2 linked regions of the Homo sapiens genome follow. The protein of the gene in region 2 interacts with the protein of the main gene of each other region in a pairwise test. Each region holds a gene or a part of one and is shown on either strand. Other genes may lie near its edges. The genes, in order: SLC41A2 and SLC6A15.

Region 1 (7,649 bases), about 20 Mb from region 2:
AAGAGCCACTTACAGCTAAATGAATGCTGCTGTGCTTATTTCATGGTTAATTTCCGAGCGCACACAAATTCAGCATCAGGTCTTTCATGGCCAAAAAAAAAAAAACCACTAAAAAGACCTGATGTTACCTCCCAGGAATTCAAACTCAATTTTCCACTGATCTAATATGATTGTTGTTAAAGAAAAAGATTATTCGATGATACTTGTTAAAATGTGGTAAAAAAAAGTCTATTCAGGACCATTGTGATAGGTAAAGGGACCATGGAATGGGATTTTGCAGTTTGGGAGGAAGACTAGGCTCAATTCTGAATACGGTGTGGGCAAATGGGAATTTATAGCCAAGGAGCAGTGTCATGGTCAGTGGACAGAAAAGTACTGAGAGGAAACACCGGGGGTAGTGGATATTCAGACCAAACCAACCTAACAGGATTCTTGCTGAAGACAGGCCAGAGTGATCAGACACCACCTGGGGGACAGTGGAAGCTGAGGAACCTAATCAGGTTGTGAGGGTAATCAGGTAGCGAGGGTAATCAGAAAGCGAGGGCCAGCTGGGTGCAGTGGTTCATGCTTGTAATCCCAGCACTTTGGGAGGCTGAGGCGGGCAGATCACCTGAGGTTGGGAGTTCGAGACCAGACTGGCCAACATGGTGAAACCCTGTCTCTCCTAAAAATACAAAAATTAGCCTGGTGTGCTGGCGGGCACCTGTAATCCCAGCTTCTCAGAAGGCTGAGGCAGGAGAATTGCTTGAACCCAGGAGGTGGTGGAAGTTGCAGTGAACCGAGATCACGCCACTGCACAGAGCAAAACTTCGTCTTAACTCAAAAAAAAAAAAAAAAAAAAAAAAGCAAGGGCCAAGAGTCAGGGGCTGTTGCTAAACTCACTTGACGAGGTTCTTTGATAAAACTGCATTTTACAAGGAAGTGCACAAATGGGCCTAGAAGGTTCAGGGGCCTGAGTAAAATTTCGTCAAGAAAAGAATCTTTCTCATTGTTGGAAAGTACACTTCCCAATTTCCAAAACTTTATAGAAAATACAAGTAAAGGTTTCCAAATGGAAATAATAGATAAGCAACTGATAAAAAGCATGTGAAGCATAGCCTAACTCTGCTTCAACCTATACATTACAAAATGATGGATATATGAATTAACCCTTTTATGCCACTGCCTTTATTTAGAAGAATGAGGCTGGTAATTTCGGGTTTATAACCCAAAATGTGTTTTTACTTTGTTTTAACTAATGAAATTATTATCAAACGTATTGAAAATATAAACTATCCAACCTAATATTGATTGTTACCAACTTACCCAATGGATATACAAATATCCTGCAGCTACAGATGTTTTCTCTGCCCGCTGGGGTTTTTAGTGGCGCTTATTGGGAAGGACTGAAAGTAGAGGGCAGTGACAATTGGGAATCGCTATGGAGATATCCCTGAGAAGTGATGGTCACAGCTGACCTGTCTCCTTTATGGTAGATGAGGGTAGGGACACTTTTTCTTCTCTCTGAACGTACTGCAGTTAGATTTATTTAGCTTAAAAATAACAAATACAGAAATATTTAGATGGAAATGACTAGAACTGTCAGTTATTCTATTTTAATGTGAATGGATTTAATCAGATTGCTTTCTTCTTGGTTAGCTACACTAAGGAAGTGGGAGTTTTGACTTGAGGAGGGATAGTAGATGTAAGTATTATGAGATCGTGGAACATTTTGGAATATTGGGCAAAGTTTGCCCTACTTCTAAAAGTGAGGATGTTAAAAAATGGAAAGCTTTAGATAGCATGAGGGATCTGAAAGATGAGAAAAGAAAAGCAAGAATGAAACAATTTGGAAGGAAAGATTGTAGGATATAAAGACAGATTCGACTTATTTAGACATTTTTGCCCAAGAAAAATGTCTAAATAGGAAAAGTGGAAACCTTTTCCTTCATTTGATCCCTCTTTCCTTTTGCCCCACCTTGCTGCTCCATGCTAACTGTTCTCCTAGGACCCAGAAATCAGACTGGGATTACTGTTGTTCATGTTGAAGCTTTCAAGTGTGCTAGTTACACCCCTTCTCTCTCCATATTCTAGTCAAATTGAGATCAGACTCAAGCCAGATAAGAATTTAAATACTATTAAAATAATAGTGTAATTTTCATTTCCGGTAAAGCTGGATTGGAGAACTGAGCTTAGACCCATGCTTACTGTTCTTTCTTAATTTACCTACCCAGATGAAACTGTTGCACCAGGAAATGGAAGGGAAAGTCCTGTCCTAAGGAGCTTATCTTATAGCAGTTAGAATGGAAAGGAAAACTTTCTCTCCTTGAGGGCACAGCAAGTCCAAGAAAGCCAGTGAGAGCTCACGGGTGGAGCCTGTCTGAACAGTTGACCTTTATACCTATCCTAGCAATTAGATAAGTCACTTTCCTGTGGGAGGAATTAGTGATGGGGGTGGAGAGAAAGAAAAGTGTTCCTTTAATCTTGTTTTCTCCTACTTAGAGGAGTGAAAGTTCTGTTGTCATTGCAGAGAGAAGTAAACAGCCATCCTCTCATAGTTAAGTATGTTATGGGAAATAAATAGTGTTTTGTAGGCTAGCCTAGGAACTAATTCACCATTTATAAAAATGAACTGACTGTATATTTTCCTTGGAAATAACTAAATCTCTTAGACACTTTTGAGTGATTATTTTATTGTGTAGTTAAATATATAGATTATTCAAGTCTATTTCCTTGTTTTACCAGTACTGGTTAAATATTTATGGAATGTCTAATACGTGACAGGCACTGGGCTAGGCTTTGGGATTCAGTGGTGAACAAGAATGGGTCCTTGCTCTAAGAGTTACAACCTAGAAAAACAGTTAGTACAAGTACCATTACGATAAAGCGTAATAAGCATTGGTTAAGTGTAGAGTGCTTTGGAACCACAGAAGAAGGAGAACTTATCTATGAGGGCCAGGGACATGGATGTTAAAGAGCTGAGATCTTAAGCTGAATAGGAAGTAGCTAGGTAAAAGGGAAGAGTGAGGTTGAGCAGAAGTGTTTTGAGCAAAAAGAACATGTGGAAAGGCCAAGAGGTGTGAGAATGTGGTACACTAAAGTGACATTTTTTTTCTTTAACTGCAGGCACCTACTAGTAGATTGTGAAAGCAAATTAGTGAGTTGTAATCCACATGTTTTTTAAAAGGAATACAATAGAAAATGAGGGTGTGCCACTCATAGATACTTACTGGATTGTAGGGGTAAGTAGGGGTGTTTATGCAGGATTTAGTTAACCTTATTAAAGAAGTTGGATTTATCTTAGAGGAAATGACAAATCATTGAAAAGTTCTAATCGGGGCCTGATTAGAGATCTTTAGAAAAAGGTCTCTTTGGGTACCTGGTCTTTCTTAACTCGGATGTAAACTTCAAATTCATTGGCCCAGCATTACAGGTATTCCAAAACCTGGTTCCAATCTATTTCTTGTAAAAAATCTTCCCACTATTTTTGTTATTGGAATTTCCCAGTTCATAAAGATTCGTTCGCCTAAGTACCTTTGCACCAAGACCAAAAGGTCTGTGAGAACAGATTTCACTTCTGTCCTTTAACATTGAGTCTCTGGCAACTAGTATAGTGCCTGGCTCACAATAGAGACTAAGCAAATCTTCGTTGATAGAGTCTAAATACCTTTAATATTAGGAACATTATGCAGTAGTAGACATGACGTTGCTGTTTCTGGTAATGTCTGCTTTGGGACAAAGAAAAAGTTTTCATTCAAATTTTTTTTCTCAGTTGAAATCATGTTAATGATAGAACTGCATACATTTATTAAAAAGATAATTTAACAGAGGGCATTCTTACATTGAAACAGTAGTAGAGATAATAAAAAGAACAATAAACATTGTGGTTTTGATGTTTTCCCAGGGAGTACAGTGACACAGATTGCTCACAGGAGCAGCCAATCCAGAAATCATTTCTGTTTTGTTTGAACTTAGAGGCATTCTCTGAGCACTCACCCAAAGGCAGTGTTAGAAAAATGGCTAAGGACAAAAGGAATAAATTATTAGGTTGGTGCAAAAGTAAGTGCAGTTTTTGCAATTAAAAGTAATGACAAAAACTGCAATTACTTTTGCACCAACCTAAATGGATGAAAATATATCAATCATATGAGCTTAATGAAGAATCAACAGAAAATAGATTTTGTTCTTACAAATGAAAATAGAACATCCATATACCCTAAAGAATTTACAAATAAGAATTTAATGATGTCAGTTTGTTGCCAGAGCATGATTCTACTGTCACAGTATTATGACTTCACAGAATTAAATTGTGAAACCCAACCATAAAGGAAAAATTCTTTCAGTGTTTGGTTCCGATCAGTGGTAAAAGAAGTTACGAACAGTTCATAAAAGGTAAGGAGATTTCAGTTCTGATTCAAATTTATCTTACTAAATTTTTGATTTGTGAAAAATTTTGCTCGTTAGTTTTTAAGTTAGGGTTTATGTATCTTAAACTGGAATGCCAAAATCAAATTTTGCTAATATGAGATGGCTTTTAAAAAGCACTCAGAGAATTTTATCTTTTTATATTCCACAGAGTCTTAATTTAAGTAGTACATTGTAGAACTAAATGGAAACTGTTAACTTGTATAAGTTTATCCTAAGGAAATAACTCTAAATATGGGAAAGTATTAGGCACAGAGATATTCATTTTCATTGCAATGTAATTTAGCCAAATAATGTCCTGCTATAGGGAAATTATTTACTAAAATATGGGAATCCATTTGAAAAAGTTTAACCATTAAAAATACTTTTTTAGAGCAATAGTTTCTTCCTGTTAATTACTTTTTAAATTAAAAAGTAAAAAGTACTCAAACAAAAGTTCAAATAATATAAAAATATGTAGAATCAAAAAAAGTGAAAATGATATTTCAATCTTGCTTTCTATTACTGCTTACCCCTCCCCCAGCCACCTCAATCTAGGCATACCCAGTTCCTTAGAGGTAAATGCTTTGAGCACTTTGTTATTAGCCTTGCAGATCTTTTTCTAATCCAGTGGTTTTTAAACCGAGAAGGAGTTTCAGGGTCTTCTCAAGTTGGGTAATATGGGGACCCAGTGGGTGGAAACCAGGGTGCTTCAATGGGTACTGCTTTGCTTTTACAAAACTGTTTTATATATTGGGATTTCACATAGGGTTTAATTTAAATAAAGGGTTCCTCTGCATTAAAAATAAAGGCTTAGCCAGCCACAGTTCCTGTAGTCCCAGCTATCTCAGGAGACTGAGGTGGTAGGGTGGCTTCAGTTCAGGAGTTCGTGACCAGCCTGGGAAAAGTAGTGAGACTGTGTTAGTCCGTTCTCACAGTGCTATAAAGAAATACCCAAGACTGGCTGATTTATAAAGGAAAGAGGTTTAATTGACTCACAGTTCCACATGGGGAGGCCTCAGGAAACTTACAGTCATGGCGGAAGGCGAAGGGGAAGCAAAGACCTTCTTCACATGGCAACAGGAGAGAGAGAAGTGTGAGGAGTGAAGGCAGAACAGTCCCTTATAAAACCATCAGATCTCATGAGAATTCACTCAAAATCATGAGAACAGCGTGGGGGAATCCAACCCCATGATCCAACCACCTCCTACCAGGTCTCTTCCTAGACACGTGGAGATTATGGGGATTACAATTCAAGATCAGATTTGGGTGGGGACACAACCAGAGCATATCAGAGACCCTGTCTCAAAATTAAAATAAATGAATAAATGGAAGTTATTTATTCTTCCTCATTTAGAACTGTCCTCATTTAGAAAACAAAGTCCTAAGCCCCATAGTCAGGCATTCCATGTCTTCCCCAAGTTTCTCATTTTGCTGCTTGGTCATATTGAATAGTCTACTCATACCTTCCCATTTTCCCATCAGTTTTCTGCCTGATTACCATTCACCTTGTTGAAAGGCACTTTTCCTTCTCTCCCCTCCCCACCTCCCCTCAATTTCTCTAAATCTTACCTGTTCTTAAAGGTTCAGTGCACCAGCCAGGCACAGTGGCTCACACCTGTAATCCCAGTACTTTGGGAGGCTGAGGCAGGCGGATCACCTGAGGTCGGGAGTTCGAGGCCAGCCTGACCAACGTGGAGAAACCTCGTCCTTACTAAAAATACAATATTAGCCGGGCGTGGTGGCACATGCCTGTAATCCCAGCTACTCAGGAGGCTGAGGCAGGAGAATTGCTTGAACCCAGGAGGCAGAGGTTGTGGTGAGCTGAGATCGTGCCATTGCACTCCAGCCTGGGCAACAAGAGCGAAACTCCGTCTAAAAAAAGAAAAAGTTTAGCTCACCATCATTTTGTTCATTCCTCCTTTCAACTTGTAGTTGGTGAACACTTACATTTTGTCTAATACTGTGTGGATAATTTGCAGAATTTGGTAGCAAAAGCTACAAAATTAAAGGATGATCTTTATGTAAATCTGTATGTAAATCTTTGTGTAAAGGATGATCTTAATGTAAATAAGTGAAATAATGTGTTATAAAGTAAGAGCATTCTGGGAGCAGGTACTAAAGTTATAAGTGTTCCCTTATTTCTTCCACACTGTTTTTTATATTGGTACTTATAAACAAGGCAATTTATGATATGATTACTTTTCTGGATCTTCAGAAAATATTTGTTCATTTATTTTACTTATTTATTTATTTATTTGAGACGGAGTTTCGCTTTTGTTACCCAGGCTGGAGTGCAATGGTGTGATCTTGGCTCACCGCAACCTCTGCCTCCTGGGTTCAAGTGATTCTCCTGCCTCAGCCTCCCAAGTAGCTGGGATTACAGGCATGCACCACCACCATGCCCCACTAATTTTGTATTTTTAGTAGAGATGGGGTTTTTCCATGTTGATCAGGCTGGTCTCGAACTCCTGACCTCAGGTGATCCACCTACCTCGGCCTCCCAAAGTGCTGATTACAGGCATGAGCCACCACGCCCAGCCGTATTTGTTCATTTATTGATTGAGTAACAGAAGATAGTGCAGAGATAGTTCACCTATGGATCAGAGGTGAAACCTGTGAAGGAGCTGTTTCCATTCTTGAGCAATAAACTGTGTTCAAAAATAACTTGAATCCAGTTTACTGGGTTCTAGTGTTTGGCATGAAAGGAGCTGAGAGGGAACACTGATGATACACCTTGGTTCTATCATCCTTGTGCCCATGGCTGTGTACACTGGCGCCAGAGGATTATAACACAGAGAAATGTCTACAGGGGCTTCCTTATCATTAACTGGTTAGTCAGAAAGTCATGAACTCAAGTCCTGTGTCTTTATCTTACTAACGTTGTAACTTTGGGCATATTATTTAACCTCTCTGAGATGCAGTTTTCTAAACTGTAAAGGATGAACATACTTATCTTCAAGGTTTTTTTTACAAAAGATAAAATGAGGTCAGTATATATAAGAGAAAGCAATTCTTTTTGCTTTAAATAGTATTGATGTAGATAGAATGGGTGATCTCCTTTCCTTTAGGTTTAAGTTTTTATATATTTTTTAGGACTTACTGATTAGAGTTTAGTTCTTTGGAGCAGTGCTTTTTAAGTCTGAGAGTGGCATTTTTATAAGCTATTCATATTCCTGGTAAGTATAAATGATGTAGGAAGCAAATTAGGCCAAAGGACAACTTCCTGGGGAAATAAACATTTTTTTCGTCATTATCCAGTGTAT
Region 2 (16,783 bases):
CACTGAATATGTTTTATTTGTTCATACATCCTTATACAATGTTGTTTGATCTTTTATAGTTATTTGTTGTAGTAGGCTGTTTTCCCTTCTTTTAAATCTGGGTTAACTTTGGTTTGCTTTGACCAGAAGGTAGCAGCAGTGAAACTATGCAAGTTCCAAGGCTATAGAAGCTTGGCAGTTTCTGCTTTCCCTCTTTTGGAAGCTAGGCACCATGTAAAACGTCTGCTTCTCCTGCTAGAAACCCCACATGGAAAGAGGGAGAGAAAGGGAGAGAAAGGGGGGAGGGGCGGAGGGGGAGAGAGAGAGAGAGAGAGAGAGAGAAATAGTCTCAAGCAACCATCATCTGAAGTGAAGCTCCAGGCATAAGAACAAAGGTATTGATATTCCAGCCCTAGCTGAACAGCCAGGTAACACACCAATTAGAGCAAATGAACCACCCAAATGAGCCCAACCACCCCACAGAAGAATGATTTTAAAAAGTCATTATTTTAAGACACTATGTTGTAGAATGGTTTGTTGTGTAGCAATAGATATCTGAAACATTTGTCTATGGATAAGATTACTTATGTATTGGATTTAACTAAAATTATACAAACTGTACTGAAATTTAAAATATTGTCCAATAACCTGTTCACAATGTGGCTAGATCTATGTAGAGGATATGTGGTTTAGGTTTTTAAATACACACAGTGATTTCATAGGTATTAGAATAGAAATAGGTATTAACTTTCAAAGCCACATTTAGTCAATCATATGTAAAGCTGCATAAAGTCAATTTCATGCTTAAGGCATCTTGGATATCGTAAGTGAAACAGGAATTATCATTGCAAAATCTGCAGACATCAAAATGACCATGAGAGAATACTAACAAAAACTCTACACACATAAATTTAGTAACTGAGGTGTAACCAATCAGTTCCTTAAAAAACACAAACTACCACAACTTAGCCAATAAGAAATAGAACATTTAATAGCTATATAACTAATAAATAAGTTGAATGCATAATTTTAAAACTGTCACAAAAGAAATCTCACTGGAAAATTCCACCAAACATTTAAAGAAGAATTAACATCAATTCTACACAATCTCTTCAGGCAATAGAAGATGATAGAATAATTTGTATTTCATTTTATGAAAGCAGTATTACTCAGGTACCAAAACCAGGCAAAGATCATAGTAAAAAATAAAAAACTACAGATCAATATTCCTAATGAATATAGACACAAAATTCCTTTACACAGTGTTAGAAAACAGAATTCAGTGATGTATAAAAAGAATTATATTCCATGATCAAGTAGGGTTTATTCTAAGTATTCAAGGTTGGTTCAATATTCAAAAATCAATATGTGATATACAATAATGACAGGCTAAAGGAAAAATCACATGACTATATCTACTGATGCAGGAAAGACAAAATTCAATGTCCATTTATGATCAAAAATGTCAAAAATTAGGAACAGAAGGAAACTTTCTCAACTTGATCAACAGCATCTACAAAAAATTTACAGTTGATATTATATTTACTGGTGAAAGACTAAATGCTTTTCCTTCAGGATAAGAAGCAAGATAAAAACGTCCACTCTCACACTCTTATTCAACATAGTATTGGAAGTTCTAAGTAGTGGCATAAGGCAAGAAAAAGAAAATACAGTCAGCCCTTAGTGTCCAAGGGACATTGTTGAAGGACCTCCCACAAATACCAAAATTCTCAGATGCTCAAGTCCCACATTCATCTGTGGGTCCTGCATCCCACAAGTACTATATTCACATCTGCATTTGGTTGAATCTGTGGATGCACAACCTAAGGACACAGAAGCCTAACTGTATAAGTCACATAAATCAAGAAACAAGAAAAGTCAAGTTACAAATTTATGTATAAGTCACATAAATCAAGAAAGAAGAACAGCCAAGTTACAAAAGATTTCCATCACATAAGGATTCCCTGTGTTGGCCTTTTTTAACTACAACCACTGTGCTCCAGTCCCCAGGCTCTCCTTAACTCCTGGCAACCTCTAATCTGTTCTCCATACTTATTTTTTGGTCATTTCAAGAATGTTATATGAATGTAATAATACAGTATTCAATTTTTTTGCAGATATTTTGATTGTCTATATTATAAATTCTAATGAATCTACAAAAATACCTTCTAGAGTAATAGTCCAAAAAAGTCACAGAATACACGGTAAACATACACAAATCATTTACAGTTCCATATGTTACCAATAAACAAGTGAACACAGAAATTAAAAATGCAATAGCATTTACAATCATTAAACTGACATAATTACACGAAAATGTAACAAAACCTGGATGGTACATTTTTGCTGAAAACTACAAAGTGCTGATAAAGTAAATGAAAGAAGATCTAAATGTATGGGAAGACATGCCATGTTCATGGATTAGAAAACTCAACATAAGAAAGATGTCAAATTTCCCTAAATTGATATATGGTTAAATGAATTCCTATCAAAATATCAGTGACATTTTTCTACAAAGAAGATTATTTCAAAATTTATATGAACAGGCAAAAAATTAGAGGAGCTACAACAATTTTAAACAGAAGAATGAAGTGGGAGGAATGATTCTATCGAATTTTGTGACTTATTATATAGCTACAGTAATGAAGTCTATGTGAGGTTGGTGAAAGGATAGACAAAAATGAATGTAACAGAAGAGGCTACCCAGAAAGAAGTGCACACAATATGCCTAACTAATTTTTGATAAAAGTACCAAAGCAATTTCAATGGAGAAAAAAATAGCTCTTTCAACAAATTGTTCGGGAAATAATTGGACATCCCTAGGCAAAAGTATAACCCTGAACCTAAATCTCATATCTTATACAAAAATTAATTCAAAATGAATTACAAACTTAAGTGGAAAATATAAAACTTTAAGAAACAAGTCATCAGATTAAATCTTTGAGATCTAGGGTTAACCAAAGAGCTCTTAGACATGACAAAAGCAGGATTCAGAAACACAAAAATTGATAAACTAGGCCCCAAAATTTGAAACTTTTGCTATGAGAAAGAATCTATTAAGAGGATGGAAAAAAAAAAGCTTAAAAATGGGAGAATATATTTGAAGGTCACAAATGACTGGTGTTTAGGATATATAAAGAACTCTTAAAACTCGACCGTTGCCAGGCGCGGTGGCTCACGCCTGTAATCCCAGCACTTTGGGAGGCCCAGACGGGTGGATCATGAGGTCAGGAGATTGAGACCATCCTGGCTAACACGGTGAAACCCTGTCTATACTAAAAATACAAAAATTAGCCGGGCGTGGTGGCGGGTACCTGTAGTCCAAGCTACTTGGGAGGCTGAGGCAGGAGAATGGTGTGAACCAGGGAGGCAGAGCTTGCAGTGAGCTGAGATCGCGCCACTGAACTCCAGCCTGGGCCACAGAGGGAGACTCCGTCTCGAAAAAAAACAAAAAACAAAAAAAAACTCGACCATTATAAATAAAATAAGAAAACAGGTAGAGATATTTCAATGAATATTATATATGAATGACAAAGAAGCACAAGAACTGAGGCTCGATATTATTAGCCATTAGGTAAATGCAAATATAAAATACTATGAGATGTTGCTATATTCCTATCAGAATGGCCAAAATATAGTGACAACCAAATTCTGGCAAGGATGCAGAGAAAATGGATCATTTATTCATTACTGGTGAGAATGTAAAATTGTACAAACACTCTGGAAAAGTTCGACTGTTCATTTAAAAACTAAACACACTGCTACCACATAACCGAGCAAGTGTTCTCATTTATCCCAGATAAATGAAAATTTATGTTCCAGAAAAGCCTATGCAGGAATGTCCATAGCAGTTTTATTTACATTAACCCTAAACTAGAAATAATCCAGATGTCATTCAATGGGTAAATAGTTATAAATTCTGGCACATCCATACCATTAACTACTATTTAGCAAAAACTACCAATATACATGACTTAGATGAATCTACAGAAAATTATGCTGAGTGAAAAAACATCAATTCAAATACATTGAATACTGTATGATTACATTTATATAATATTCTTGCAATGACCAAAAAATAAATATGGAGAACAGAGTAGAGATTGCCAGGAGTTAAGGAGAGCCTGGGGACTGGAGTGAAGTGGTTGTGGTTATAAAAGGCCAACACAGTTAATCCTTATGTAATGGAACTCTTTTGTAACTTAACTGTATCAATGTCAATATTCTGATTAGGAAGGTTTAATATAGTTATTACAAAATGTTATATTTGCAGGAAATTTGTCAAGAGCTCACAAGAACTCTCTGTGTTATTTCTTACCAACTACATGGGACTCAACACCCATCTCAAAATTAAGACTTTTTTTAATACCCTAAAATTATGCCTTTTTTGCTAGTATAATTAAATAACTTTATTGAATCAAGTACTAAATATGCTTCTCCAATATAATTTTATTTCTAAAACTCTTGAAAGAGGAAGCTTTCTTGTAAATTCAGAAACAACAACAAAAATCAGGGGGTCGTCAAAATACTCATTGACTTTTGTACCTTACTAATTCCATGGCATGTGATGAATGAATAAAACTCTACCAAAGGTGTTTATTTGCCTCTGTCTTTACTTTAAAATATTTTATATATTTATATTTTGAATACAAAATACTGTAATAAGATATTAAAGGGCAAAGAGTAAAGAAACATATATATATATATATATATATATATCTTCCTACCCTTTCTCCCTAGAATATACTGTACCATCTGTACCTCCCAATAAGTAACCAAAATCTTCAATAAATATTTTCTGTATATTCAAGCATATATATATGTGTGTATACACACTTAAACACTCTATATATATTCAAGCTAATATGTGTTTTCTCCCCACCAGCCCCCAATCTGCTTCTTTTTACACAACTATTACTATGTGCATAATTCTACCTCTTAGTTTTTCACTCTAATAAATTCTTCAAAACTCTTGATCTCAATGTAATAGCTTCATTTAAAAAACTACTGTATGATATTCCTTGGTATGGTATACCATATATTTAGATCATCACTGATAATTTGCTACTACAATGTTCCAACAAATTATTTTGTATATCTTGCATCTCCATATCTGTAGAATAAATTCCTAGAACTGGAACAGCTTGATCAAAAGGTATGAGCTTTTATAATTTTGATAAATATTACCAAATAGCCCTTGATAAAAATTGTGTCCATTTGCACTACCACCAGCAATGCATGAGAGTGCCCGCTTTCTTCTACTGTCTTCTGTATAACAAATAATCTCTTTGATCTTTGCCAATCTGATAGGTGAAAAAGTTCCCAAAGTATGCATTCTATTTAAAAATAAAAGTCAATTCATCTTATGTGAAAAGATACCTTAGCACATTAATCACAAGGAAATAAAGTGACCTTCAAGGCTGAACACAACTTACAGCTCTGCCCTGTGTCAAGTGATACTCTGCATTTGAAATTGCCCTATATCCCAGTTTATTTTTAGGGCTTGTTGTTCACAGAAAAAGAGATGATCATTACTGGTCAAAGTTAATATTTAAGCAGATAAATACATCAAAAATTGTTTAGTAAAGACAGCCAGAAGAGTGGTATGATAAGCAAAGTAGAAATAAATCTAATGATTCCTGCTATGTAACCTTGAATGTTGTTCATGCATCCAACTATGCCTGTAGATTTTTATTAATACTATCTGCTGAGAAACCATTTCAAAATCTACTCTGCACAGCTGCATAAGAATATACTAATATATCCTATCATGCATATGTATGTAGTAATAAAGAATTAACATACTCTTCCACAAGGTGAGAGGTCCATTGAGAAGTGAAAGAAAAGTTTTTAGGAGCTTTTGATAGCCACCAAGCTCTCTTTTGGGTCTGCTATTCTAAGTCAATGATTCAATTTCCTAGATGATATAATCCCAGAGTTAAAAAGAATGCAAATATCTTACCTATTCATATACAAATTATATTTTATGACAAGAGAAGCATATTTACAATTTCAACTATGATCACTGGGTAAGGTAGTAACTATGAATACGGACTTTAGAGTTTAGTAACTATTCTGACTTATTTTAAATGTTTCAGTAGGTGACAAGGAAGGCATCTCATCTGATTATTGGCATCTCTCATAACTGTTATCCAGTTTTAAGATTCTGCATTATTTCATATTTATTCAGTGATAGAGTACTGATCTCCTAGAAACATATAAAAATAACTTTCTTAATTCGATTAAAATACTACATCTCGAGTTAACTATATTAGAATTATAAAATAATTTTTCAATCAACTATATAATGTGCAATCAGAAAAAAGAAAAGCTTATCAACAGTAAAAGATTATCTTTCTTTAAAAATCCTATTAATTCCTGTCATCCTAAAAAAAAACACAAACTGAAAGCTTTATTTAGAGAAAAATGGTTAATAAATTCCATTTTAAATTTGTTGGGATATGTTTTACCACAACAAATACACATGGATCATTGATGATTCCATAGAAAAGGCAACAACACATAAAAATAAAATCGCCTGATTTTGATGGTCAAATATCTTGAATTTAATATGAGAGAAAAAAATACATACTGTTTGTTAGTCCAAACTGCACCATGTTGTAAGCTCCCTGCTATTTTGCAGACCTTGGTGAAAGCGAAACATTTCACAGGGGTTCGAGCTGTGAGAAACATCCCGTCTAACCAACTGACCACGAGTTGGACAAAGGCCTAACTAAAGAGACATCCCTATCATATCTTGCTGGACAAAGGTCCAAGGAACACCCTGAACAACAGAACGACATCGCGCCGGAACAAGAGCCAGAACCGCCTCTTCATGGAAGCATCTTATTAATATCCCGCGGAGCAGCAAGCCATACTGCTCAGACCCCTTCTGCCCGTACCTATAAATGGCCCCAGCCTGTAAGCGGCAGCGGGCTCCGGCATTAGGCTGGTCCTCCACTTCTGTAGGATTTATGCTGGACAGAAAGCCTGAATTTGCTGTTGAGCCGCCCTCTTTCCGTGTGTGTGTGTGTGTGTGTGTGTGTCTTTAACCCTCGCCTTCCCTTCAAAACCTAACACTGTTCAAAGAAGATTTAGTCCATCATTAAGTATTTATTAAGAACGTACAAGTCAAGCCCAGTACTGGGCGCCTAAGACATAAATAGGTCTGTGTTTCAGCAATGATCTTGCAGAAATGAGGTTGGGTGGGTGAGGGGCTTGTTGGGGCTGTGTCTGCACATAATAATTCCTCAAAACAAACACTTTGTTGCTGGCACAGCAGAAAAGCAATCAGGCATTGACAGGTAGAAAATAGCTTTTACAGCATGGGCGATGAGGAGCCCCAAAGCAGCATATAAAGCAAATCCTTCATTTCTCCCATACGTCTTAAGTAGTGAACCGCAAGGATGGTGCAGACTAAGATTGGGTCTACCTATAAGATCTGGAGGGGAAAACGGCAAGACCAGAAGAAACCGTCGCAGACTTATTTGCATAAGCACCCAAACACTGCTTACGTCACTGCGCCGGAGTCCGGACCCCGCCCCGTCTTACTCCAGCCTTTCCCAGCTAGGGAGGAGGATGGAAAGGGAAAGCGGGACGCTGGAGAGCGCGAGCCTGGGGGCTTTGCTTCCTAAAACGCACATCAAAGGCTGCTTCTCAGCTCAGGAAAAATAATTCCCGTTCCCGCAGCCTGTGCCACTGGGTGGGTCATGCCTGTTCCCGAACGCCTCGGGCGTCTTGATTCATTCTTATGTATCCAGTTGGTGCGCTACGTTAGAGTGCAAGGATTTCCCTGTACTCAATACCGTCTTCTTCCCAGTCACACACAGACCAGCCTAGTGAAAGAAAGGTAGAAACGATCTGGGTTTCTAACTGCTTCCCATCTTCTTACAGTCCCAGCAGCACCACCCTCACCGCCACACTCTCAAATTCCAGGATGCGCAGAAACACAGGAGCCGTGATTTCTCCAGCAGCCACGTGCCTTTCGTACGGCGAAAGGCCCCCTTTCGGGCCATTTATCACAGGATACCTCAAGCAAAGGGGAACTGTGGTCACGTGAAAACACTCTGTCCTCGGTAGTCGCCTTCTGCCTTTGCTAAAGCGAACGGAAGCGAATGAGGAATAAAGCTCTCTGCTCTCCCCGCCCCATCGCCCACCTGCACGAGGTTTAGCTTCCAATTCACCTCGCGTCTCTCTCTGCCCCAACCCTCCCAACTTTCCTCTTGGACTTTCCCGTGTTGGACCCCACCCTTCAACCAACCCCGACTTGGCTTGGAAACGAGTAGGTCTCTGGGGATGCTGTGGGCAATTTCCACGACGGGAAGAAAGGATGGCGGCACGTTTCAACCCATGTGCTTCCCCTTACATGTGCAGCCTGTCGCCCCCCACCCTGATTGTACAGAGATGCAGAGTTAGACGGTTGCCCGCCCAGCCCAGCTTCTCCCTCCCAGGGCTTTTGAGCTGCCCTCCCTCCTCCCACCCCAGGACGCAGCGAGTCCTTCCCGGCATCCATCCATCAATTCGTTCCCGGTGCTGGTGCCCAGGCTCCTGGGTGGCTAATGGCGAGCCCCACCTCACCCCCAGTTGTGCCCTTAGCGTAGGCGCTTGCCATTACCGTCAGTGTGTCTTGACCAAGCGCCTCTTGCTGCTTCCACGTCCGGGCAGCAGCAGCAGCAGTCGCGAAAGGGTAGGGTCCAGGTGGCTGTGACGGAGGCCGAAGAGGAGCTGTTGGCAGAGAAGCAGCTTCTTGCCTAGGTTGGGACCCGGAGCTGGGTTTTGGGGGTCGCCGCCCTGCAGGCTGGCAAGGAGAGACTCGTGAGCGCCTGTGTGTCTGCCAGGGAAACAGCACGGGATACAGGCGCGCGGGTGCGGGTGCGCGTGTACATGCGTATGTGTGTGTGCGCGCGCGCGTGTGTGTATGTGTGAGGGTGTGACGGAGGCGCCCACGTGCTCGGCCCGCCCGTGTTACGGCCGCCTACCGGCTGCAGAGGAGAAGGGTAGGCTGTGGGCGGCGGCGGGGCGCGGAGGGGTAGCCAGGAGCGCAGGCTGGGCTCCGCACCTCCCTGCCCCAAAACCCATTGATGCAGCGGCCACTGCGGCTGCCGAGCGGCGTCTTCCCAGAGCCCGGGGCTGTGCCCGCCCGATGCAGGATGCAACTGAGGAAGCCCGCTCCAAAGCAAAACAAAACAAATTCCTCCAGCCATGCCGTCTTTCTCCAACCCACTCAAGCGAAAGAATGGACACCAGTTACCAGCCGCTGACTTTTGTCTCAGTGAGAATAATAATAGGCATGGTGCTACCTGGCACCATCTGAATATTCTCCAAGAGTCAGTAATGGGACTAGAAAAAATGGGTGACCCAAAGAACCCTTTTCCCTACCTATTCCCCCAAGCCGGCCATTTACATCTCTTGCGAAAGAAAAAGCCTCTGGGCATTGGCTTCTCCGTCAGGCGGTGGCCTCATAGCGCTCAGTGATTCTCGCCAGGTTATGAAAGGCCGTTTTAGAAAGCTGGCCCTCACCCACCCTGTGTTGGTGCCTCAGCAGCAGACTTTTTTCCAAGGGGTCTCATTACAAGATGAAGCCTGACTTACCTCTGCTAACAATCAAGGCATGCTCGTAATTAAGCCACGTGGAGAATTCCTAAAATATACACCTCTGAACACAAAGCTTAGCCTCCTTTTGAAAATGGCTGAACCGTCCCCTAAACAGTGCGTATGCTCTAAGGATGAAATTTTCCGTCCTTGAAACGTTCAAAATTTGAAAGAAATACAAAATGAACCTAGAAGCTAGGTAGAAAGGTTCAGTAATTTAGCAAAGTTAATTTTTCACTTCCAGATTATTAATATTACTCTTAAAAACTACTTTTGTGCACTTTTAGGCCTTTTAACAATCCCTTAGATTTTTACGGTTCGTATCCAATTAAGATTGAATTAAATTAAAAAGGCCATTGCAAACAGGTTTTTCATGCAGTGAAAAATCTCTTGGAAAGAAATCACAAGACCTAAATTTCAGGTCAGAACATTGCTACTAATCCTTAGCTTTTAAAACAGCCAAGAGAGTTTTTTCTCAGCCTCTCTTCCAATCCCAACTTTGAAAAATTAAAAGTTAAGAAATTAAATTAGATTTGATTCCCTGATACGCCTCCCCTGCCATGAGTAAATAAATGCTCTTTGATAGATGCGCCACGTGAAAAAATAAAAACAGTCAAAATAAACCTTTTATAGGACTTTTTTTGCTTTTTACTTCACATTTTGGTGACAGGCAAATATTTAATGTTGATATATAAAGAAACTGAAATACAGTACCAACATTATCAATAACAACTGAGAAAATTTTAGGAAAATAAGGAGAGCTGTGTCCACCATGATCAGGATTAGGATTATCTGTGGGAAACAAAGTTATCCATATGCTGGCAGAAATCGTTTACGGTAGTACCAAGAAGTACGAAAATTATTTCTCTCCCACGCTTTTTCACTAGTGTCTGATACCTAATTCCAATACATATGCATAGGTCACAAAATATTTGTAGAGCGATGCCCTCCATAATGACTGATACTAATTTATGTCTCAATGCCAATGAAGAGAAGTAGGAGAAAGCAACTATTGTTTTAAGCTTCCCACTAAGTACCTGGGGCTTAATAATATCTTATTTAATCCTCTCAACTAATTAATGAGGTGATTTTTCCTAATTTAGAGATTAGAGAGAGGTGATACTCAAAAAAAATTGCAAAAAGTCAGAAAACTTGTTCAATGACAGAATGGAGAAATAAATTCAGATATGCTGGCCTCAAACTTCATGTGCTTTTATACTATCCTGTAACCCTTTAACAAATTATCTATTTTAACAGGAGGAAAGGGTGGAATCTCAACACAAGTGGTAGGCAACTTTGAAAACAATAAATAGATGAAGAATGGAGAGACCTCAAAAGGAGAGTCTGGGAACCCTAGCCAAAGGTAAAATGTATTCATTTTTAAAATTTAACAACAATGAGTCTTCAAAGATTTAAAATTCAATTGCTAATATATTTTAGGGTAATGATTACAGAGTTCTTTCTCTGTCACCATAGGGCAAAATGGCCAACATGGGATTGGTGTGGGAGGAAGAGGCAGCACACAGAAAGGAAAAAAACAGAACTTGGAAGAATTAACTACAAGTTAAGGGAGACTAGTGCTTCCAGCCACACTGTATTTAATAATATTAACAAGGATTGATTAATGTTAACTATGTGTCTTTGCAATGTACAGAATAATTTCTATATTTTATGAATATATACTTCTTAATTCTTACACCAAGCCTGTGATGTAGGTCTAGTTTTTACAAAACATTGCCAGAAAAGAAACTGAAGCTTTGATTGTCCAAGGTCATACCGTCAAAAGGCATCTGTTAGATATTGTAAAAATAAAAACCTGCCCTATCTAAATCACTTTCTGAAATTGATACCTACTTTTAAGCAATTAATGTTACACTTATTATTTTTAAAATTTGATAAAAGATCACATGAAGGAAAAGAGTATTCTCTTTGACTAGAGGAGAGAAGGAATCTGACTCACCAAGCCTTTCTACCTTATTTCTTAAACCAAATCCTTTAGAATAACAATATTATGTAAAAACTTCCAAAGATGTAGCACTAGAGTTCAGAAAAATAATTCAAACATTTACTAAAAGATGATTTTAAAACTACAATACTAAAGAAAAACATTGAAATCAATTCACATCCTAAGATTACATTAATTCATTTGCTTATATTGCTATATGGGCAGTAGAGTATATTGTGAGGATTTTTTTTTTGCATTTTAATAAAACTTTTTATTCTAACGTCCTCCATGCCAAATGTCATTTGATATATGGTCTCCAAATTTTTATGAAAACAAAGTCTGCACAAGCCCAAAATATCCACTGAATATTCTGTTCTATTCATACTACTGATGAAGAACTGAGAGGTAGATGCAAGGAAAGTAGGTTCTCTGATTTCTCAGTGGGTAGAGGATGGGTTAACTGAATTGGCAAATGTCAAAGTAATCAAATCAATTTTTTAACTAATTGACTAAGATAGTAAAGCAATCAAGACAATGTAGGAAATGATTGAATTTTACTGTTTCTGCACTTTGAAGATAAAGCCTAAATGGCCCTGGCGAGTAAAAATACCAACACAAGCTGTCATTTTTTTGACAGAGAAATGCACCCCCTACCTCTGTAAACTGATTATAACCACTAAGTTTTTAAGTTGCCCTTTTATTATAATGTTTAATATAATAGCAAACTATGTCTCTAAAACATTTTATGTGTGTCAGGTACTATGCTCAGCATTAGTCTATATAGCTACTTAAATATCCGAAACCAAAATATTTAATGGTATTTGTTTTGTATAAAGTATATGAGGTGCCTTTTATTTGCTGCACAATCTCATTGGTATATACAGATTCTATAGGCTCCATGATTTTTATACGTACTTCTAAAATATAATTTGAATACAAAAGTGATACTTGCTCATTGAATACATTTCAATCTATGAACTTGTACATGGTGAAAAGACCCCTGTGTTTATGTTCCCCTGACTTTGAGGAGGGTCCCAGGAAAGAGGGTAGAGTTAGATTTTAAATAGAGTGGTCAGGGTAGGTCTCATTGAGATTTTACTGGTGCAAGGACACGAAGGATTTGCAGGAGTTAGCCTTGTAGATATAAGGAGATAGGAGTAAGTTCCAGGTAGAGGTCAGTGAAAAGGGTCTTTTCAGTCAGTTTAAAAAGATTGTAGGATCAGTGAATAGACCCTAAAAAAAGAATTTAACTGATATGTTTGAGGAAGAGAAAGAAGACCCAGATATTGCAAATATGTCTTACTCCGTAGAGACAAGCTTATGGTTTTTACAATTTAATTTATTTTATAAAATTCATATTCATAGATTTTCTGTTATTGAACCATGCTTGCATCCCTGGAATAAATCCTACTTGATTATGAGATACTATTCTTCTTTATATAAATTGATGGACCCAATTTTTTCATATTTTTATAGAGTTTTTCATCTATACACATAAATGTATTTGATAAGTGATTTATATTCTCCTTATAAGGTTATTCTAGCACTGTAAAATGAGATCCAAAGCTTACACTTCTAGTCTCTCAAATACCCTTTTATGATATAGACATTGTTTCTTACTCACCTGAGAAATCAAGGAAAGTAGGAAAGTGGTAAGATAAAGATTTCTTATTTATGCTTTTTTTTTTTTCTTTTGAGACAGGGCCTGGCTCTGTCATCCAGACTGGAATGCAGTGTTGGAGTCACAGCTCACTGCAGCCTCAACCTCTCAGGCTCAAGTGAACCTCCCACCCCAGCTTCCCAGGTAGCCGAGACTACAGGTGCATGCCACCATGCCCAGTTAATTTTTTCATGTTTATTTATTATTATTTATTATTATTATTTTTTGAGACAGAGTCTCGTTCTGTCACCCAGGCTAGAGTGCAGTGACGCGATCTCGGCTCACTGTAACCTTCGCCTCCCGGGTTCATGCAGTTCTCCTGCCTCAGCCTCCCGAGTAGCTGGGATTACACATCACCATGCCTGACTAATTTTTTTGTATTTTCAGTAGAGACGGGGTTTCACTATATTGCCCAGACTGGTCTCAAACTCCTGACCTCATGATCTGCCTGCCTCGGCCTCCCAAAGTGCTGGGATTACAGGTGTGAGCCACCGCACCCGGCCTAATATTTATTTTTCTAGAGACAGGGTCTCACCATGTTGCCCAGGTTGGTCTTCAACTCCTGTGCTCAAGCAATCCTTCCATCTTGGCCTCTAAATATACCAAGATTACAGTTGTGAACCACAGTACCCAGCAATATGTTTTATTATTTATTGAGTTTTTCTATTGGTCTATTCAAGTTAACTAGTTCTTCTCGAGTAAATGAGTAAATGTTGGCAATTCATTTCTTTTAAAGTGTTCATTTCACCTAATTTTTAAAAGTGCTTCAATAATTTTTGTACTATTTTCTTTTGAATTTTAAATCCTAGATTACATTTATAGATATATGAACTTCTCCATAGGTTTTGTTTCAACCTTTTCTTCATATCTCTTTCAATCTGTTAAATGCTAAACATTATCTATGAGTCTTTTCAAAGAAACAACTATTGATATTATTGGTGTTATAATTTTTTATTTTCTGTAAATTTCTTTTCTTGTGTTATTTATATATTTCTCCTACTTTCTTTGAGTTCAGTCTTTTCCTAGGTTTTGAATTTGAACAAATATAGTACATTTTAATTTCTACATTGCTTCAAGGTTATAATTTATTTTATAAGCATAGCTTTAGCTGCAACCTAAACATTTTGGTTATATAATACTTTAAGTGTTCATTTAAAATAATTTCAGGAGCCTCTCTGAACCTATTCTGGCTTGAAGAGGCCGCCCTAAAAATAATAACCATAATTTCAATTCTTATTTGCTTAATTTATGAGCATATTTTAAACTTTTTTACTGTTTATTACTTATAGTTACATTTAAGTCATAAAACTTAATATTTGTGATATCAATTCTGTTGGATTTGTTGAGACATTCTTTGTGGCCTAGTACTTGTTCACTTTCATTTACATTATCTATGTTGTTTTCCAGAGTATGTATGTTTTATTTGTTAAATCCAGCTTATTAATTGTGGATTTCAAATCTTCAAATATGCGGCATAGACCTTTAAGACACATATGATTGCATAATCCTATTCCAACTGGATTTAGTTTTTTATTTGTTTGTTTGTTTTGAAAAGGATTTTTGCTCTTGTTGCCCAGGCTGGAGTGCAATGGCGCGATTTCAGCTCACTGCAACCTTCGCCCCCCGGTTTCAAGCAATTCTCCTGTCTCAGCCTCCTGAGTAGCTGGGATTATGGGCATATGCCACCACACCCGGCTAATTTTGTATTTTCAGTAGAGAAAGGGTTTCACCATGTGGGTCAGGCTGGTTTCGAACTCCTGATCTCAGGTGATCCTCCCGCCTCAGGCTCCCAAAGTGCTGGGATTACAGGCATGAGCCACCATGCCTGGCCTAGATTTAGTTTTTTTAAAAAAATTTTAGATTAAAAAAAAATGTGGGATGTTGGTTTGTTTTCTTTCTTTTTCTTTTTCCTCCTCCTCCTCCTCTTCCTCCTTCTTTGTCTTCCCCTTCCCTTCCTTCTCCATCTACTTCTCCTTCTTCTCCTTCTCCTTATTCTCCTTCTCCTCCTTCTTTGACTTCTATACCTCCCAGGGAAGACTTTGGCTATGTTGGGTCACTTTCCTACACCTGAGCCAACCAAGGTGGCTTCAGAAATGAAGTTCGTTTTTCCATATGATCAGAGTGGCATAAACTTCTCCCAATGAAAGAAAGCACTATTAACAGAAAAACAGCAAAAGGGAAAAAAAATTTTAAACACTCAAAAACATGAACAAATAAAATATCTCCTACACTTCATGTATGAAAATACATTCTACAGGGAGTATAGCTACCTTGGATACTAGGAACTGAAGAGTTTGAGTCATTGAGAAAAAGTTTGATGGTCTAGCATATAATTAAATGGTGATGTTTGGGCCTGGCTTTCTCAGCTGTTGGTGGAATCGTGAGTCATGAGAACTCAAATGAATGAAGAGCATCATCCCTGAGTAATGGTGAACTCTGGCCACCCCCCAGTGTTATTTCTGTATCTCATCCTTCCCCCCTCCCCACCACAAGCAATATAATAGGGGTGGACTAGTCTAATAATTTGGTCACTAGTCTAATAATTTGGAAGTTGGCTTTAGACCTAGAGAATTTGGAATTCTCTAGGTGTACAGGGATTTGGCATGCGTAATTTTATGCGGGTAGTAAATATTTACTCCCCCACCTCCCAAATCTGAATTTGACATATGCTAGAACCTCAGTAGGTAAATGCCCTTGGATTATCAGACCACATTCAGCAGTACAGTAGTCTCCCTTTATCCTGGGAGAATATGTTCTAAGACTTTCCATGGATGCTTGAAATCACGAACAGTACCAAACTGGATTGCCAAACAGTTGGAACATGTTTCTTTTAAGGTCTTTTATCCACAAATTTGATGCCTTTTCCATCTTATCTAAGCACTTATTATGCACTGTGGCTGTAACTTTTGCAGTTTGAAGTGCTATGGCAAAACCAGCACAAGTCTATTTTTTTTCACAATGACACAGATAGAAGAATTATTCTTAATGTAAATCTTAGCAACCTCAGCATACGATTGTTTCTTCTTTTCGTATTGAGAGCTTTCATATTTTTATTTTTATTTTTTAATTACTGAGACAGAATCTCATTCTGTTGCCCAGGCTGGAGTGCCTTGGTTCAATTATAGCTCACTGTAGCCTCAAACTCCTGGGCTCAAGCAATTATTCTGCCTCCGTCTCCTGAATAGCTAGCTGGGACTACAGGCCTGCATCACTACTCACAGCCTCACATTTTACTTAAAGAAAGCACTTTACTCCTTTCCTCTGGCATATCCAAATTGCTAGCGTCACTACTCTTGCACTTTGGGGCCATTATGAAGTCAAATAAGGGTGAATTGAACACAAGCATTGCCATCTCATGATATTCTATCTGATAACCAAGGCTGATACTAAGTGACTAATGGGCAGGTAGTGTCTACAGCATGAAGAATCTGGACAAAGGAATGATTCATGTCCTAGGCAGGATGGTGTGGTACAGAACAAGATTTCATCACACTACTCAGAAGGGAGTGCAATTTAAAACTGATAAAACTGTGGGTAAGGGGAGCCACTGTAGCTGCAACTCTTATTTCTATAAATTAACTTAATTTCTAACTCTGAACTCACATACA

Evidence for each region.
Region 1: the proteins of SLC6A15 (region 2) and SLC41A2 interact in binary tests that used the Homo sapiens proteins (3 or more experiments, as listed by UniProt).

What each region holds. Positions count from the first base shown.
Region 1 is NC_000012.12:104,948,213-104,955,861, reverse strand, and holds part of SLC41A2 (solute carrier family 41 member 2), read left to right. Parts: intron 1-872; exon of another isoform or gene 873-4,371; intron 4,372-7,649. UniProt on the Homo sapiens protein: Acts as a plasma-membrane magnesium transporter. Can also mediate the transport of other divalent metal cations in an order of Ba(2+) > Ni(2+) > Co(2+) > Fe(2+) > Mn(2+).
Region 2 is NC_000012.12:84,903,930-84,920,712, forward strand, and holds the start of SLC6A15 (sodium-dependent neutral amino acid transporter B(0)AT2), read right to left. Parts: upstream 8,871-16,783; 5' UTR 8,594-8,870; intron 1-8,593.